4 linked regions of the Homo sapiens genome follow. The protein of the gene in region 1 purifies or fractionates together with the protein of each later gene. This does not show direct contact. Each region holds a gene or a part of one and is shown on either strand. Other genes may lie near its edges.

What was found. Proteins that work in one complex are often made in the same cells at the same time.
Region 2: the proteins of PSG3 (region 1) and ANKRD46 purify together in Homo sapiens (affinity purification with mass spectrometry; 3 studies listed by BioGRID and IntAct, with this or other methods). This does not show direct contact.
Region 3: the proteins of PSG3 (region 1) and DUSP12 purify together in Homo sapiens (co-immunoprecipitation; one large-scale study listed by IntAct). This does not show direct contact.
Region 4: the proteins of PSG3 (region 1) and NGLY1 purify together in Homo sapiens (co-immunoprecipitation; one large-scale study listed by IntAct). This does not show direct contact.

The regions. Positions count from the first base shown.
Region 1 is NC_000019.10:42,733,982-42,737,481, forward strand, and holds part of PSG3 (pregnancy-specific beta-1-glycoprotein 3 precursor), read right to left. Parts: intron 1-3,500.
Region 2 is NC_000008.11:100,532,260-100,535,759, forward strand, and holds part of ANKRD46 (ankyrin repeat domain-containing protein 46), read right to left. Parts: intron 1,053-3,500; 5' UTR 950-1,052; intron 202-949; exon of another isoform or gene 97-201; intron 1-96.
Region 3 is NC_000001.11:161,755,262-161,757,738, reverse strand, and holds the end of DUSP12 (dual specificity protein phosphatase 12), read right to left. Parts: intron 954-2,477; coding exon 792-953; 3' UTR 501-791; downstream 1-500. UniProt on the Homo sapiens protein: Dual specificity phosphatase; can dephosphorylate both phosphotyrosine and phosphoserine or phosphothreonine residues. Can dephosphorylate glucokinase (in vitro).
Region 4 is NC_000003.12:25,759,444-25,762,943, forward strand, and holds part of NGLY1 (peptide-N(4)-(N-acetyl-beta-glucosaminyl)asparagine amidase), read right to left. Parts: intron 1-3,500. UniProt on the Homo sapiens protein: Specifically deglycosylates the denatured form of N-linked glycoproteins in the cytoplasm and assists their proteasome-mediated degradation. Cleaves the beta-aspartyl-glucosamine (GlcNAc) of the glycan and the amide side chain of Asn, converting Asn to Asp.

The DNA of each region.
Region 1 (3,500 bases):
CTTGCAGATACTTTCTCTCATTAGACATTCTACTCTCTGATTCTGAATTTGACTACTCTATGTACCTGATATCAGTGGATTCCAGAGTGAATCAGAGTGTAGAATAGTAGTTTCCAGGAGCTGGGATCAGGGGAATAGGGCGTTGTTCTGTGGGTGTGCGGTTTCAGTTATGCAGGATGAGGAGGTTCTAGAGATCTCCTGTACAGCTTCATGCCTATAGTTCATACAGATAAAGTGCTCCTTATTCAGAAAGCTTAAAACCAAGTGTTTTGGATTTCTAATTTTTTTTATTTTGGAATATTTACAGTACATGTACTGGTTTAGCATCCCAAATCTGAAAAATTTAAAATCCACAATGCGCCAGTGAGCACTTCTTTTTAGCATCACATCAGTGGTCAGAAGGGTTGAGTTTTGGAGCATTTCAGATTGTGGATTTCTGGATTTCCGATGCTCAATTTGTAATACTGTAATTTTCCCATAAAAATTTGTCAGGAGTTTAGACCTTATGTTCTGACTCTAGTAACAACAACAGCAAAAAATTTGGAGGAAACATTGAAATGTTTTCATAAGTGGAAATTTTTACTGATGATCCAAACATCTAAGATCAATTGCTGGTAGTAGTATTTCTCTTGAGACCAAAATAAGGTTTAGGTGTGCCGTGAATTCCAGCAGGATCACATTATGCTCAAAGAAAGATGCCAAAGGTGATTTGAAATTAGCAACTCCTTAAGTAGAGAGAGTCCCGTTAAAAGGACAGAACTGGTTAGTGTGTCAATTGCATAAAGGGAGGAAGGATGCCAAACTAAAAGAAGTGATGTGTGTTATGTTAGTAAATATAGAAAGAACCTGCTTCTAATTTCTGTGCAGAGTTAGGAAAAATGGGGAGGACCCCAAAACAGGTATGTGAAATGCTTTCTTCATTTTCTCTTAAGCTCAGGAAACACCACTAGTGTTTAAGTTTGTGTGAATTAGAAAGAGTCTAAGTGAGATGCCAATGGTTTGTGTGTCTCCCCACACGCAGAACTCCAACTTATGAAAACGGCATCATCATGAGGAAACAGTTGTATGTGGCACAGGCAGTAAAGCCATCAGATAGCACCCACCTGGCCACCTCCACCTGGTCCCCAAAACCACCAGTATTCCCATTACGTGTATCTTATAGCCTTTGTAGTTGTCCCACAGCTACAAAATTTAAAAATTGCTATTGTCAAATCAAAATATTAAATATGAAGTTGAAATGTTGTTCCACTTTTTTTCCCCACTCTTGTTGAACTTTCCTGTTTCAGTTTTGGAAGTTTCTATTGACATATCCTCAAGCTAGGGATTCTTTCCTCAGCTATGTTCAGTCTACCAGTAAGTATCAAAAGCATTCTTCATGTCTCTAAAAACATTTTTTTTTTTCTGAGACAGAGTCTCGCTCTGTCACCTAGGCTGGAGTGCAGTGGCATGATCTCATCTCACTGCAAGCTCCACCTCCTGGGTTCATGCCATTCTCCTGGCTTGGCCTCCCAAATAGCTGGGACTACAAGCGCCTGCCACCACGTCCAGCTAATTTTTTGTATTTTTAGTAGAGACGGGGTTTCACCATGTTAGCCAGGATGGTCTCCATCTCCTGACCTTGTGCCTGCCTCGGCCTCCCAAAGTCCTGGGATTATAGGCATGAGCCACTGTGCCCAGCCATCTCTGAGGGATTTTAATGAGTTGTTGACTTTTGAGTTTGTTCAGCTTTTTACTTAGTGTTAGAACCGAGGAACAAATTTCAAGCTTGTTATATGCCTGACAGGAAGCCAGAAGTCTCTAGGAAGTGACCGGAGAATGTGAGCTTTATAGCAGGTTGAGGATGGAGTCACAAGTGAAATGGGTGAAATGAGCCCATGGGGTTTGGGGACTGCAGGCCTGTCCAGCCTCTGACACTCTGGTGAGTCAGTGCTAAGATTACAACAGTGACAGCAAACTAGCATGGCTGAGTCCATCTGGTATCTAGTCTCAGGCTGGCTGTCCTCACTCATTCCTGGGCATAGGCCAGGCTAACCTTGGGAGGAATTTAGTTTATTGTTTAACTTTGAAGCAAGAATGATAATTGTTCCTCTGTAAAAGTAACACCCTTACTTTGCCCAGGGACTGCCTTTGTAAAACTAGTGAAAGACCATGAGATTAAGATTATAGGAGGGAACTGAATTCTGCTAAAATGTTGGCAGAGTTTTTATAATCCTTGACTGCTCAAATGTCGTTGGGCCAGAGTTTACAAAATTTGTAACTAATTGCTCCTATAGATAACATCACTATTGTAGAACGTGAGATTGGTCTTTTGAGATGTTTCTCATTCTTTTGCATTCTGGCAACCGGCTGACCTCATCCATACCTATGACTAATGGCTCAGCCCGTCATGTGGTCCCTACCTAGAGGTGGATTCAAGCACAAACAGATCATTTCCCTCCGCCCGCATGATTCCATCACCAATCAGCAGTACTCATTTTTTAGTCCTGTGCCCCTGAAACTATCCTTGAAAATCTCTAAGCCCTGATCCACTGGGGAGGCTGATTTGAGTAATAATAAACCTCCATCCTCCTGTTTGGCAGACTTGGAGTCATTAAAATCTTTCTTTACTACAAACCACCATTTCAATACATTTGTGTGTGTGTGTGTGTGTGTGTGTGTGTGTGTGTGTGTGTGTGTGTGCAGGAGGCCAGAAGAACTTGTCTGGCAATTATAAGAGTGGATGGAGAAACTGCCTATCCCTGTCCCATGGTCTTGTCCACAGGTCAGCCTCACAAAGGGAAAGAGCCCTGGATGGGAATACAGTGGAAACTCATTCTCTTAGTGACCTGGGGACATTGGCTCTAGAGGAAGCCTGGCAGGAGTGGCAACTCCAGGTGATTTCTGCACCTTTCCTATTTCCTGGGAGGTGGGCCAGGCCACAGTGTTAGCGGGAAGGGAACTGAACAGTCAGCCTAGTTAGAGGGAGTGTCTGGGGAAGACCTAGGGGTGGGGGAAGAAGCTGTGCAGGACAGGGCTTGCCAGTCAGAATGAAGTGGGAGGAAGATGAGGGACACAGAGAAGCAGAGAGAGGCAGAGACACCATGGCAGTGAGCAGTGAGGGCTACACTGACTTCAGAGACCCCAGGGACCAGGTGCCCCCAGTTCCACAGTCCAGGACCAAGGAGCCCTGAGAACCCTCCGGTGGCCAAAGAGCTTCAGAGTTACATGAGGTGGGGTTGCTTTAGGGTCAAGAGGTAGTGGGGGGATGAAACGTGGGTGTCAGCCTCTGAAGGACAAGGGACAGGTGTGGCTAGAACCTCCTAGGATTCTGCATGCAAATTCAGTCTCTAAAGAGGTTTTGGATCATTCATTTCTTCATTCCATTTCTTCATTTGTTATGTAAGAGCTCCTGAGTGTGTCTGTCTCGCTGGGCCTATGGTGGTGTAGGGTGTGAGTGGGGAAAGAAAACAAGGTCCTCTCCTTGATCCTCTTGTGACAGTGACATGGACACTTTGGGAAAC
Region 2 (3,500 bases), on another chromosome or scaffold:
AGTTCGAAACTAGCCTGGGCAACATAGCGAGAGACCCTGTCTCTATAAAATATTTTAAAATTAGCCAGGCATGGTGGCGCGCGCCTTTCGTCCCACCTGTTCGGGACGCTGAGGTGAGAGGATCACTTGAGCCCGGGAGGTCGAGGTTGCGATGAGCTGTGATTGAGCCACAGCACTCCAGCCTGGGCATCAAAGTGAGGCCTGTCTCAAAAAAACAAACCAAACCAAACCAAACCAAACCAACAAACAGAAAAACTCAATGAGAAGAATTTACTCAATAAAATAGTCAAGAATTCTTTTGCGAGGGTAATCTAAATATTTTCCCTTACAGCAAGGGTGTCCAACATTTCGGCTTCCCTGGGTCACAATGGAAGAAGAATTGTCTTGGGCTACACATAAAATACATAATGATAGCTGATAAGCTTTAAAAAATTGCAAAAAAAATCTCAGAATGTTTTTTAAAAGTTTATGAATTTGTGTTGGGCTACATTCAAAGCTGTTCTGGGCTGCAGGTTGGACAAGCTTGCACAGTATTGAATCATAAAAATGGAAAAGCTATCATAAACCTTTTTCAAAATGAAATGCCACATATCAAGTGCTTTTCAAAAGGTAATGTGTTTTGGTTAAATTTTTAAAAATAGATAATTTAAAAAATCTAGTTGGTGTTTTTGATTCAGACACAGTAAGAATTCTTGTGGTTTGCAGACTAGGATACTTCTGAGTGTTGGCTCAGCAAGAAATACAAGTCTCTGTGTCTATTTTTCAGGTGAGAACAAGTGTGTATTTTGTCAGTTTCTCTGTGTCCCTGAGCAACTACTAAACTTAATCCCACATTTAATAAGCCCAATGATAGTTATTTTTCATCTTGATCACAGAACTGAATCTGTCCTAAAGCAGTTCACTGAAGGTTTCACATCTTGTGAGGAAGTCCACAGTAGTAAATACTCACGTAAGCCTTAAGATTAGATCTTTTCGTTCAGTGGTCACTCAGCAGTTTCTCTGAATTCTCAAGAAGGTTCAACAAAAATATTCTGTAATGTGCTGGCAAGGATCTACAGTAAATAGAAAATTAAGTTATAATAGAAGTGTGGTGAGAAAAAGAACTCACTGTTCTATTAAATACAGACAGGTTACTGAGCCTGAAGAAATTCTCTAGAAAATCTGTAGGTGAGGCATCAACTTGTGAGGCCAGAAAAATATCTGACGAGTAACAAAGTAGTGAAAAGGAAGCAAAGAAGGGCTTAATAGAAGCTGCTCTGTGGCCCACAAACAAGAAAGCAAGACAGAAAGATAAAAGAATAAGAATCAAATTATGTGCCATCACTAAAGAACAAATTGGGCTCCGAAAATTCACTCTCAGTCATTACTTGGAATTCAGAATGCATATTTTTCACATTATAAATGGAGGCTAGATCCCAGATTAGTCCACAAAAGCATTTTTATAAATAAAATACTATTCATAGTGGGAAAAAATAAGTTTAAAAAGCCAATACTTATATTTAAACCAAACAGGATACATTTAAGAAAAAGTATTTCTAATCTACCTTGAATGCTGGTACTTAAATCTCTTTAAATCTGTTCCCTTCCTTGTCTTTTCAGTGTGAAATAAAAGCTGGCCCAAGTCTATCTGTAGTCTTCTTTACATAGCCTGACGCTGCTCCCCCACCCAGGCTGCACTTCTCTGCACTGAGAGAGACTACGAGGGCACCCTGTCTGCCCACTCAGCTCTTCTCTGGAAGGACCGTGGAAGCAGGGTCATGGGCAGGCAGTAAGGACCACAAAAATAGCAATATTAGTTCATGAAACAAACATTCACTGTGTGCCTGCAATGTGCCAGATACCATGCTATCAAGTCCAAATCCCAAATTCCTGGTCAGGGTGAAATACAGGTTAACTTTTTACCGATCATCCTTGTTCATTGTTATCAAATCCCTGTGAACAAATTTATATAGGGAAATAATTAATGGTATTTTACAAAGCTCCATTTACAATATGTAAGTCAGGTTGTATCATAAAGGCTATCAGTGCTAGGCTGGAACTGATGACAATAGCTGACAAACTGTACCTGAGGACCAGTCCCACACGAGGGTCAGTAAATATCACGAAGACATGATAACACACAAAACATCTACGCTCCTCATTTCCTACTTCTTTTGTGATACCACAGTATCAATTTAGACGAACTTCATATCACGGAGCCACTTACCTTGATTTCCTTAAACAAATATTATGTATTCACCCAAAGCCTAATATTTTTCCTCTCTTGTCCTGACCTCTAGAGCTGAGTCTTTAACGACTAGAGCCTGTCTCTAATGTATGATTTGGCTTTAATTTTCAATGTTAATTAAAATGGTGCAAGTGGGTTATTCTGGATGTGGTAGAGCTCACATTAGGGAAAAAGAAAAAATTTTGTTTTTCATCTAGAGATGGAATTATAGTTCATATGGTCATGCCCCCAAATAATCCTAATGTTCTCTTAAATCCACAAGAAGGACAATGCTTCTGCAATTTTTTCTTTTTTTATTTTTGAGACAGAGTCTCACTCTGTCGCTGGTGCCGGAGTGCAGTGGTGCAATCTCGACTCACCTGCAGAGGCCTCCGCGTTCAAGCAATTATCCTGCCTCAGCCTCCCCAGTAGCTGGGACTACAGCCATGTGCCACCATGCCTGGGTAATTTTTGTATTTTTAGTGGAGATGAGGTTTCACCATGTTGGCTAGGCAGGTCTTGAACTCCTGACCTCAGGTGATCCACCCACCTTGGCCTCCCAAAGTGCTGGGATTACAGGCGTGAGCCACCGCAACCAGCCTGCCATTTTCTTTGGATATTACAATGGCCCATAAGAAAATACACTTGAACAAATTACAGATTTGTATGATTTCATAATAATATTATACAAATTCATTAGACTAAATTACTAGAAACCTGCCAAGAAAACTTCCAAGACCTCAGTTAGACCTTACTCACTAGACTCTGTTAATAGCTTCCCTAAGAAGTCATAAAGTGAATACAAATCAGAGCACATATTTAACGATTGTCCAATGGGTGAAGAGGACTAAAGACTTTTTTAAATTAAACTTTTTGAGATAATTATAAATTCATATGCAGTTGTAAGAAATAACACAGAGTGATCCTGTGCACCCTTTATCCAGTTTCCCCCAATGGTAACATCTTGCCAAACTATAGTACAACATCACAACCAGGATACTGACATTGATATAGTCAAGATACAGAACATTTCCATCACCATGAAAAATCTCTCATATGTTGCCCTTTTTAGCTATTCCTGCTTCCCTCCCATGCCAGTCTCTCCTTAACACCTAGAAAACACTACCTAGTCTTCCACTTCTTTAATTCTGTCATTTCAAGAATGTTGTATAAATGGAGCCATACAGCACATACAGGAACCTTTTGGGATTGGTCTTTTCACTCAGTATAATTCTCTGGAGATTCATCCAGGGTAGCTGTGTGTATCCATAGTTTGTCCCTTTTTTATCCATAG
Region 3 (2,477 bases), on another chromosome or scaffold:
TTCTGATTCTTGTAAATGTTCAAATATCTAATTAGGTCCAATTGTAATTATTAATAATGAGTAAAATAATTCTAGTTTCTATACATCAGGTTAAAAAACTAATCTGGACGTATTACCTTTTCCAATACTCACATATTGGGCTACAAAATGACTTGATATATAGTAACTCTACATTTGTTTTCTTCATCATTAGAAACACATCTAACATTTATGTATTTCTTTATGTAGATCACTTCAAAAGGGATCTCAAACACTTTTCTAAAAATATAGATAATTGGGATTACTGAACAGTAATAGGAAAATTGCCTTTTAATCAGCGTTTTACTAATGGCCTTTCCATTTCCAAGAAAAAAATCCAGACATGTATGGGTTTACTAATGTCCCTTAAAAGAAAGAAAGTGAAATAATTCCAAAATATGTCCAAACAAATCTGCTTTATGTGTCTGGAAATAAAAGAATACCCATTTAAATATAATAGTTTCAAATTTTTGTACATAATTTTGTCTATACAGACCTTAAGATCATATAACATTCCAACAATCAAAACTTTTAAAAATATATGAAACACAGACAGTATCTGGTTATAAAAGATTTTAATATCAAATAAAATGTACATGATCAAAAGGCTTTGATTGCCATGTAAAGCATAGTTTCCAGGTTACATCAAGTGATTTTATCTTCTCCCATTTCAAATGAAATGTTGAAAGCACAAACAATCTGCCATGAATGATAAGAAGCAAAGGCAGCACATATCATCTGCAAGTTTCTTCCCAAGCTATAAAATATCATGTTCATATTTTTCCTGTTTGTGATCCCAAAACAGGCAATATTTTCATTTCATCCACTCTATTCTTATGTATTTGAAAAGCAGGTGTTATCCACCTACCACAAGAGCACTGTTCACCATACCAGTTGAAGGAACCCAACTTGGCACTGCATTTTGGGCAAAGAAGCTGAAATAAAGCAAATGTGTTACTTTATTCATTCACTTTTATACAAAACAAATCATTATCTTTGGCAATCAATATAGGATATAAAAACAAGACACGATCCCCACGTTGAGTTTATAATCTAATCAGTGAGATAAAATGCATTGGAAATTTACTGTAATAGATAGTAGACTACAATTATCTCATAGGAAGAATGTTGTATTCAGGGAGCTTGAAGGGAGAAAAGTGAAGCTTGAGATTTGATTAAGGAAGGTTTCATGGATGTGGCATATATATATATATATATATATATATATATATATATAGCTTTTAAATCAGTTTGTAATTTAGGACTTCAAATGAAAATGATCACGGCTAAAGTATAGAAAAGCATGTTAGGATTTTCATGCTGTATTACTAACTGTGTGTATTGACAGCATATAAGTCAGATTCTTAGCTATTTAAAGACAAACTGATATTCCAGGAAAATAGGTAAATCAAAAAAGCCTAATAAGGCAACTGCATTTTCTTCTAATGTAGTTAGTTATAGCATTAATTTTTATGTTTAGCTCTTTGATTTATGCATGGTATAAGGTAAGAGTTTTTATTTTTAATCTTGAGCTATAGAAAACTAGACATAAAACTCAGAAGCAGGCTGAGTGTGGTGGCTCATACCTGTAATTCCCAGCACTTTGGGAGGCCAAGGCGGGCAGATCACCTGAGGTCAGGAGTTTGAGACCAGCCTGGTCAACATGGTGAAACCCCGTCTCTACTAAAAACACAAAAATTAGTTGGGCATGGTGGCGGATGCCTGTAATCACAGCTACCTGGGAGGCTGAAGCAGGAGAATATTTGAACCCAGAAGGCGGAGGTTGCAGTGAGCCAAGATCACACCACTGCACTCCAGCCTGGGCAACAGAGCAAGACTCCGTCTCAAAAAAAAGAAATTCAGAAGCCATAAATAAAAAAACTAACAAATTTTATTATGTAAATATCCTTCATTTTAATATGACAAAACATAAAAAATCTGATAAGCAATAGACTGAAGAAAATAGTTGCAATATATTAGATGAACTATTAACATCTAGAATATATAGAGGTCCTACAAATGAGTAAGAAAGAGACAAAACCCATAGGCAAATGGGCCTAGGAATATGAAAGCAATTTATAGAAAAGAAAACAGTAAATGGCTGGTAAATATATAAAGATGGTGGTTGATGACTATTTTCATAAAATTCCAATTAAACATTTTAGGATTAACATTTTTTACCCCACAGACTGACAAAATGTTACCAGTTTTATAGTATCTATTATGTCAAGGATATGGAGTAACGGGTACATGCATTCAGTTACTGAAAACCAAATTTGTATGGGCATTTTGAATATCAGCCTGGAATATCACTAATATTTAAAATACATTCTTCGAGCCAGGAATTCCACTTCTAGGTACATATTCTACAGAAAAAAATCAAATATGTATACAAATAAGTATGCACAGGATTTAGAATCTTACATAAAAATGTATTTAACTTGGCTGGAGTGTGTGTG
Region 4 (3,500 bases), on another chromosome or scaffold:
CATCCGGAGTATTTTTATTTTCAATTTAATTCTTTTCAATCTGGAAATTACCTCATTCATTGTAGTTTTAATGGCACTCAAAATATTTTAAACAATAAAGTTTATATTCTTGCCTTATTTCTTTACATATTCATTGGCACAACTCTGAAAAAACTAAGTCATAAAAATAGAAAGTTGCTGATTACATGGTGATTACAGCAGCTGGGTAACCATGTACTAATGCTACATAAGGCAGCAGTTAATTGAGAGACTAAAGTTACTTAGAGTACAAATGGAAGTTTAAAATGTGAAATCTGTTGGTTTTAGATCAAAGAGATTTTTCCTTCACTAATCATACTTCCAATTATTTTGATTTCTGATATGAGATATATTTAAGACTTCATAAGAAAAAAGTACAATGTGTATAATTTTGTCAAATCGTGGTAATTAATCAATGGAAGTTAGATTAGCAAATTCACTTCTTTAGTTAAAAAAACACACACACACACACACACACACACAACAAATCAAGGCTTGAGCCTACTTGCCCTCTCTTTAATTTTATGCAACCCTTTATTTTGAGGCTTTAAAATTTAGAACCTGTTTTTAGACATAAAAGTTTTGTTATTTTAAATATGTTTTAATCAACTTGTGACTTCAATAAACTTATTTAAAGAAAAACTTTTCTATTTATAAAGGTAATACATGTTGCTTCAAAAAATATTTCAGAAAATACTCAATAGTATAAATAATATGAAAGCACCCATAATTTCATCACTCAGAGTACATTATGGTTAAGATGTTTGTGTATGGCCTTCCAAACCTTTAAAAAAATGAACATATATATATATGTATGTGTGTGTGTATGTTTCTAATAAGAAAAATCAAAATATTACACATATACAGACAACATATGTTGTTTAATTTTGGAATTCTCAGTTTACCTTTTTTCCATATAATAATGTTATTCATGTCAAAACAGATCACATCTTCATTTTTAACATACGCTAAGTATGCTGATATAAGGACACAATGTAATCCCCTATCAGAGGGCATGCAAGTATTAACTTTTAAGAGTGGTAGGTTCATGAAAAAGAAAGTGGATGTTTAAATCTTATGTTCAAATAGGTTTCTTCTCTTACAAAGCTAGCACACAGGCCGGGCACGGTGGCTCACGCCTGTAACCCAGCACTTTGGGAGGCCAAGGTGGGCGGATCACCTGAGGTTGGGAGTTCGAGACCAGCCTGACCAACATGGAGAAACCCCGTCTCTACTAAAAATACTAAAACTAGCCAGACGTGGTGGCACATGCCTGTAATCCCAGCTACTACGGAGGCTGAGGCAGGAGAATCACTTGAACCCAGGAGGCAGAAGTTGCGGTGAGCCGAGATCACGCCATTGCACTCCAGCCTGGGCAACAAGAGTGAAACTCTGTCTCAAAAAAAAAAAAAAAAAAAAAAAAAAAAAAAAAAAAAAAAAAAAAAAAAAAAAAAAAAAAGCTCGCACACAGATCTAGACTAAGACTAAGAGGTTGCCTTATTGTTGGTTTATGAGATAAAATTAGTTTTAAAATTAACTAGTTCGTTTTATTATTTATCATTATCTGATAATATATGACTTTTATAATTTCAATGAAATAATCACAAATTATGATAATTGGTTTAAATAAACACATACCCATATATAAACTGGCAGTAATTTCTAGAGTGATAAAGAGTTGATGAAAAGTTCCTAACAATTTCATATACATACTCAAAGTAGTCATGTGCTAAATAAAAGCATACATTTAGATTAGCTGAGTAAAAAGTACTAAATGTATATTTTAAGCATATTATACTTCAGAATCACATTTTCAACCGAGATAAAGTTGTGAAGCTGGAAACATAATGCTTCTAACATTCTGAGGTACCATGTCATTGAAAAATTGTCCTTGCTGTTTTGAATCTGCTTTTGGAAGGCAATGGGTATAAAAATAAAGGATTATCAGAAAGTTACTTCCATTAGGAACACTAAACACTTAGCATGTACAACCAGCAAGTTTGAAAATCAATTAAGTCATCAGGCAAATGCAAATTAAAACCAAAATGAACTACTACTTAACAACCACTAAAATGGGTATACTAAAAAAGACAGTAACAATGGTTGGTGAGGATACTAAGAAACGGGAAGCCTCACATATTTCTGATGATAAAGTAAAATGGTACAATTTTGAAAAACAGCTTGGTAATTTCTTAAAAACATAAATATAAACTTACCATACAACCCAGTGGTTCCACTCCTAGGAATCTACTCAAGAGAAATAAAAACATATGTCTACACAAAAATTTGTATGTGAATGTTCACAGCAGCATTATTCATAATAGGCAAACATGGGAAACAACCCAAATGTCCATCAACTGATGAATGGAAACAATATGTGGCATATCCTTAAAATGGAATATTATTCAACAATAAAAAGGAACAAAATACTGATATATCCTGCAATACGAAGAACTTCAAAAATGTTACACAAAGAGCTAGAAACAAAAGATTACATACTATAATTCTATTAACATAAAATGTCCAGAAAAAGTAGCAAGATTAACTTTCTAACAATCACCACCACTATCATCATTTATTGAGTATCAATATATTCCAGTATTTTGTATCTTAAAAGCTTACTGGCAAACGTCAACATCAGTGACTATCATCTTAACTTATACATCGACATTTTACTTGATATAGTTTTAACCAAAAAAAAAAAAGTTATAAGTTCACTAGGACTTATCTAGTTTATACACAGGTTAAATGCTTTAAAAAATATCTCTCTGGCTCCCTGACTTTGGTACATTTTAATTCTCAGTATCTCCACTCAAAATGGGCAAGGTAGAAGAAAACTGTCAAATTCTGTAGTATAGCAACTAATGATGAAAGCATAATTAACAAAATACTTTAAAGAAATACATATATTCCAGTGATCCACGAATAACCAAGAGTTGTCTATGAAAAACAAGATTCATTCTAATTTCTCTCAACTTCAACACAGAAGATATTTTGTGTGAAGGACTAGAGTAGTAAGAATTGATATACACTAGCCTACTAATAGCATACACCTTTGAGAAAATTTATTTTCTTCTACACTAGAATGTGTTTTGCCAACAGAATGACATTCTGTTTTTAGTGTAGTGTTTAGAGGCTTTCTGGTGACGGACAGGATTTTAAAGACCTGGAACTATATCTGAATTGTAAGATTAAGAACTTAAAAAAAGGGCTGGGTGTGGTGGTGCACATCTGTAATCCAGCACTTTGGGAGGCCAAGGCAGGTGGATCACTTGAGGTCAGGAGTTTTGAGACCAGCCTGGCACACATGGAGAAACCCCGTCTCTACTAAAAACACAAAAAATTAGCCAAGTGTGGTGGCAGGTGCCTATAATCCCAGCTACTCGGGAGGCGCAGGCTATAGAATCTCTTGAACCCAGGAGGTGGGGGTTGCAGTGAGCCAAGATCGTGCCATTGCATTCTAGCCTGGGCAACAAGAGTGA